Homo sapiens: one gene and its partner. The protein of the gene in region 2 purifies or fractionates together with the protein of the main gene of each other region. This does not show direct contact. Each region holds a gene or a part of one and is shown on either strand. Other genes may lie near its edges.

Region 1 (3,500 bases), on a different chromosome or scaffold from region 2:
GGCTTTATTGCATGGTTTCTTTCTCCTTTAGCTAAAGTGACAAGTGGAGAGAAGAAGTTATGGGGACCAGAGTAGTTGAAAAATGTTTTTGAGCCAGCCTAGATGGAAGAGCAGGATGAGTGGAAGAGACGAAAAATATCTGAGGAAGGGGAGATCCGATTGGATGGATATGCTGGGTCCAGATTAGGGAAGGCCATCAGAGTCCAAGGGAAAAGCCTGGATCACAGGAGCCATTGATGGTTCTTGAGAAGGGCAGGTCCAGGAAGAAAGCTGTCATTTAGGAAGATGTGTCCTTAGTATGTTGACCGAATTGTGGCAGGAATTGATGGAGGCAGGGGTCAGCTAGGAGGCTGCACAGCCATCCCAGGGTGACAGTAGTAGCAACAGCAGAAATAGAGAGGATAGAGGGGCATTTCAAAGGCCAGATAATAGGACTTGGTGCCAGATGGAAGAATGGGAATAGCAAGGGGTGAATTCAGGGAAACTGATGGACAGAGCTGCCCCTGACGGAGATAGGCCAGTTGGGAAAAGAACTTTGAACCTTTGCTAAGGGAGAATCTATGCTCTTCCTCAAACTCCTGCACCCTTCTTGGGTACAGATAGATTTGAGGCCTGAACCCTAAAGCTGAGCCCTGAATCACAAGGTCTAAGGTCAAGGAGCCCTGTGCTGGTGCTGGAGTGGGAGTGAGGGGTAGAATTACGTCCCTCTAGGACGCCTACCTACCGATCATAGTCCATGACTGAGATGAGCAGGCTGACTTGATCCATGTTTTCCGGGGGAATGTCAAAGATGATGGCCTCATTGTAGACAGGATTGAGAGTGTTTTTCTTTATGGTTGTTTTCTTCTTCTTCAGCCTCCGCCCATCACAGAGCAAGGACACTTTCACATAGGGATCTGTGCCAATGGGGACAGAGAAAAGGGAATGGAGTATGTTAAACAGATGTCTGCAAACATCATTTGCAGCAAAGGGACCGAAGCCCTAGACCTACTGCTGCTCATCAGATGGTATCAGTGGGTTGTTAAAATAATTAAACCACCTTGTATTTATGTAGCACACCTGTCTCTGAGGACACTCTGTGCTTAATAAATGCAGAGTCTTTAGCTACCTCAGTATTCTTGGGAGAGCGCCTAATGGACTTTTACTAATGGGGAAGCTGGCCCCATATCAGACATGACACCTGCCGATAGGTATGCAGTTCACAGCCCTAAATCTCAGCTCGTCAATCCCTGGCTGACTCAAAAAGGTGATGAGGCTGAACAATGACACTATTTCTTTTACCTATGTGGAGTACTATTCTTTGAGTGGCTTTTTTGTTTTACCAGAATTACAAACCAAAGGATAAAGGTTTTGGGGCGGGGTAAAAATAGGACTCAACAATGGCCAGGGAGACACAATGTGTCAGAGTGAAATGAACAGCAACAATCACAATGCTGTTCATGTCCTCCCCACCTGACAACATAATTTTGGGTCCCATTGTCTCAATAATCCCATTTCCATTTGGCATCTAGAAGGCGTGAAGTGGCCCTGCTCTCTGCTTCCCTGGAAGCCATTTCCTGCCCACTTCTGGACAGTGGAGAATGAGGGAGCTGTGGCCCGGGGAGACTCAGGGCAGCTGGTTGACATTTCCTTTCTCAGTGGGATCTTGGATTCTCTCCATCCTGCAAAGAGATGCTTTTATTGAACTTCCATGTGCCTCCCATCCTTTTGTTTTCTTTAGTTTTCTGAATGGGTATTTCATGGTCATCTTTCTACCCTGAAATTTTCTACTCACCCAAGTGAAGTGAAACCTAGTGTATCTCATAGCACAGGTGTCTCGGTCACCATCATAATTGTTATTTATGCTGCACAGCTCAAGAAATGGGAGGGCGGCTCACAGGTAATAATAGCTTTCGAGACGCTGATGTGCTGAGACACCTTGTTGCCCAGAAGCCAGGGCTCCTGTGAATCTGTCAGGAGGTGCCAGCCAAGCAGCTGCTCCCCAGCTCTGTGATTCATAGGCATATGGTTCTATCTCCTGGACATCGAGCACCCACTAGGGCCCTGTACTCCCTGGCATCATTCAGATGGCAGATGAGGCACACATCCCTGGTGGAAATTAGGGAGAACTGTGACACCTGATCAGAAACTCCAAGCCTGAAAGGCATTTTTGTAGACACCTAAATGAGCTGCCGACTAATCCATGTGGCAGCAGTAGCTATGCCTTAACCATGGGGAGATGAGGTTGGGTTTATGGAGAGACCATGAGGTGTTTAATCAACCTGCTGTCTCAAACTACACATTTGAAAGGACCCTCTCTTAGGGATTTTCAGTAAAATGGAAGTAAGAGTTTTGAGAACCGGCATGAGGCTCTGGTTTCCACAGATTCCATTCTCTATGGATATGCCCCAGGACATTATTCAGGTTCAGGTAGACAGATGGGCAGAGCTAGCCCCAATACCTGTCTTTAACACAGCAGCTTGCAAAATCCATAAGGATGTACCTTTTCTTGCAAAGTGGCTCCAGACTTGAGGTTGCTCAGGTGCCGCCTCATTCCCCTGCTCTACCTATTTCCATACACTCCCACATCAGGGCAGATTTCCATATCATGAGGCTTGGAAAAATAGAGGCAGAGCCACTTGTCCCATGGGCCACTGAGCAAATGTCTTAGCAACCTTCCCCAACTCTGTTCATCCTTACAAGGCATATCCATTTTTTTTTAAGAGACAAGGTCTTGCTGTTTTGCCCAGTCTGGTCTTGAACTTCTGGGCTCAAGTGATTCTTCCACCTCACCCTCCCGAGTAGCTGGGATTACAGGCATGAGCTACTGTGCCTGGCTGATATGAAATTTATAAAATTCAGTGCACATATTTCCCTTGCAGGAACCAACACTTTCACCAGCATCCATGAAGCCAAGCAGACAGATGACCGTTCCCTAGGCTTTTCTGGGGCAAAAGTCTGCGGTTTCTAGTGGAATGCTGGCCCCAGATGATCTTGGAGGTCCTTTCCTCTCTAACAGCCTATGATGCTCTACGCAGCTGAGGGAGGGGACACAAAGACCAGCAGTGTATTTCAGCCTCATTGTCATGGGAGCAATCAAAATCCAGCATTTAGAATGTGCTCACCACCCCTTTGTAGCATACTGGTCCTTATTATTATTTTGTGCTATTTTTAGTGTCATGGTTCTAGCAGATAGGCTTAGAGAATTGATTCAGGGCTAGTTTAGATCATTGAGAATAGGAAGATCCTGGGTTTTAGACATCAATGCCACACAATTCAAGAATAGGCAATTAATAAGCTCCATTCAATACCTAGCTTAGTCCAACATCGAATAAGTCTGGGCTGAGGGAAACCTCAAACTCATCCTCAAGAACAGGAGATCTAGTTCGAGAGGCTCCTAGCAAGTACACCCCCACTGCTTCACCCTTGGGCCAGGTTCCTCATGCTGTAAATTCAACCATCCATTCATTCGGTATCTATTTATTGAATGCTTACTGTGTTTTATCCACTGTTCCAGATAC
Region 2 (2,821 bases):
TTTACTCTTCAGTTTTGTTATCCAGGCAGTTAGCCATTCAGTGTCACACTAGATGCAGCAGTGAGGCAGCTTCCAGGATATTTTCTCTATGGTATCTTTCCATCTCAGCGAAGAGGAGTCTAACAGGACCATTAACCATGTATGAACTGTAAACACAGCAGCAGGGGAAGAAAAATATCTACAATCATCTCAAAATAGAGGTCTGAGCCCCAGTTCAGTTGCATGACTAGACTGTACACTAACACCTGGATCTCATTCCCTTCAAGGATTTGCTGTTTGGGAAAGTCTTAGATGAATAAAACCTTTCCAGTCAATTGTTTGAACTCTTCGTTCCCTCCCATTCCACAACACAATTATTTTAGTACATAAGCATGCTGATTGTTATTAAATTAATTTTCATCCTAGCCTCAAATTTTAAAAAAATTTACAATAAATTGACTAGTAACATTTTTCCCATCTTCCCCTTCTTTGTGGATTATCATATCATAATGTCAAGCAAATGGGTGATTTATATTTTATTGTTATATGTTGACATCCTCAGTAACAATGTTAAATAAATATTTGCTTTAATTTGCTTAGAACAAGTACATTGCATGAAGTTTGTATAATTATTATAGGTCACAAAAAAACAGAATCTTCTTCACATTTATCATAGTAGTTGTTTGGAAATGAAAATAAGGATATATCTTGGCTTCTTTCTGGATTTCCTTAACTTAGTTCCCATACTTCCTAAATGATGAAGTGATTGGTATTCTGCTGTCTTTGCTTGACCTTTCATAATGAATATGATCATTTCTAATATTCCACTAAGAAAAACACCTAATACTTTTCTGTGCCAATAAAATGTAGGGGATTTTTTTCTTCTTATATTTTCTTTCACTCCTTGTTCTGCACCTTGAAAATGGATATTTGCTGAAATGAGAGGAGCTGAGGAACTGAAGAAAAGGAGTGCTTCAAATTGTATATATGCATTACAAATTTATGTCAACAAGTCAAAATTCTGACAAAACTTCTAGAGAACAAATGAATACAGGCTGTAATGTAATATTGTATTATCTATTTCTCTATGTACATAAAGTTTCAACTATTGCTCACAGATGACAGAGTTGATCTGGCAGAAGCAGGATGCTTATGTGCGGAACAGAGCTGGGAAGAAAATACATGCATCAAGCAAACAGTTTATTGAGATCAGTCAAATCTAGCTGTTTTGCAAGTCTTCTCCAATTCTGTATCTCTAAAAATGGCCTCCACACCCAAAAAACAAAAAAAAATGTTATCTGTTCCATGAGGCTTTTCTCTCTTAGATACCAGTTTTTGAAGTAATCCAGTCCCGCAAGGCCGTAACTCTAGTATAAACACCAGGCTTGTTGGGTTTCGCACATTCATCTCCCCAGCTCACTATTCCAGCAAGGTACCAGATATCTCTAGCATCTGAACTAACCAGTGGTCCTCCAGAGTCACCCTAAAGGAGAAGACAGAAATTAGTAATTCATAATTCAGTTCATTACAGAGGAATTGGCTATTTTTCTAACTTAAGAATGTAATGAAAGGGGTAATTTTCAAAAGTATTCCGTGTGTTCGCATGCATAAGTGATTTTCTCCATCTATGTCAGTTATCCACCTAAAAGAGGACCTCCAATACCTTGAAAACTGATGAGATTGAAACCTTGAAACCTTGAAATACCTTGAAACCTTCAAAACAATGAGATTGAAGCCTCCATCTCTTTGAAGAACTGTACTCTTAACTTATGTGACACATCTGACAAAATAACTCCCTAATTATTTTGTCTATACTCTTTATTAGTGTAACATAACCCCCCAAAAAAGGGAGTGAAGAGTCTATTACTGATTTTAAAAAAACAAACAAACAAAAAAAAACAGACATTAGAGTCAGACACCAGGGTTTCTATCTCAAGTTTGGCCTTTCCATGCTGGCTAAGACCTTTAATTTATTTATCTGTAAATGCTCCTAATAATACCTACCTGTGATGAGTGCTATGAAGATGATGTAAGACAGTGAATGTAAAGTGCTTAGTCTAGCAAAAGGCAGAACTTAGGAAATGCATATATAAAATCACAAATTCTCATTATTTATATCCTGCAAACTCCAGAGTTTTGATTCTTTATATGGCTTGTAATAATGAGGTACTGGCTGATTATTCCTCAAGATCCTGGCGCTTCTAATTATTGACCACCCATTAAGTATTCATACTCACTCTATGAAGTTCTTAATTGATTAAAATATTATCTCATTAATTCATGTAATTCTTGTTTACAAAAAACATAGAACTAGGTTAATTTTTTCTGGGTTACTAAGAAAACTGAAACTCAGAAACATTAAGTAATTTGCCTGAGATCACGTGCTAATCAGTGGCAGACCCCGAATTTGAATCCAGAGCGATCTAATTCAGAAGCCCATGCTTTTTTCCCTACGTTATGCTAACTTCCTTGTGAATTTTCTTTTGTCCATTTAAAAAATTAACTAATATAATAGTAAATTTGAAATAATACATTTGTGATTTTAAATCAACTAACCAATAAGCATTTACTGATACCCTCGTATGTAGGAGGAGATATAAAAAGAGTATTATAAACACATGGATCTTGTCCTCTAGAAACCTGCAATCTGCTTATAGAAATAAGATATGCCATATGAAGCTATTCAAAAATAAATAATTTTGATAATAAAATCCCAAGTCTATATGCAGGCAGAGAAAATCAGGATAGAGAAATAGAAGATACAAGAGAAAACAAAGCTTTAATCAGCATAAGAGACAGGAATAAATGAGTCCGAGAATAAATAATTATTTTAAAGAGATAG

What was found. The genes of interacting proteins can lie anywhere in the genome.
Region 1: the proteins of TMPRSS11E (region 2) and SYT6 purify together in Homo sapiens (affinity purification with mass spectrometry; one large-scale study listed by BioGRID and IntAct). This does not show direct contact.

Annotation. Positions count from the first base shown.
Region 1 is NC_000001.11:114,098,370-114,101,869, forward strand, and holds part of SYT6 (synaptotagmin-6), read right to left. Parts: intron 897-3,500; coding exon 725-896; intron 1-724.
Region 2 is NC_000004.12:68,495,284-68,498,104, reverse strand, and holds the end of TMPRSS11E (transmembrane protease serine 11E precursor), read right to left. Parts: intron 1,463-2,821; coding exon 1,301-1,462; 3' UTR 501-1,300; downstream 1-500.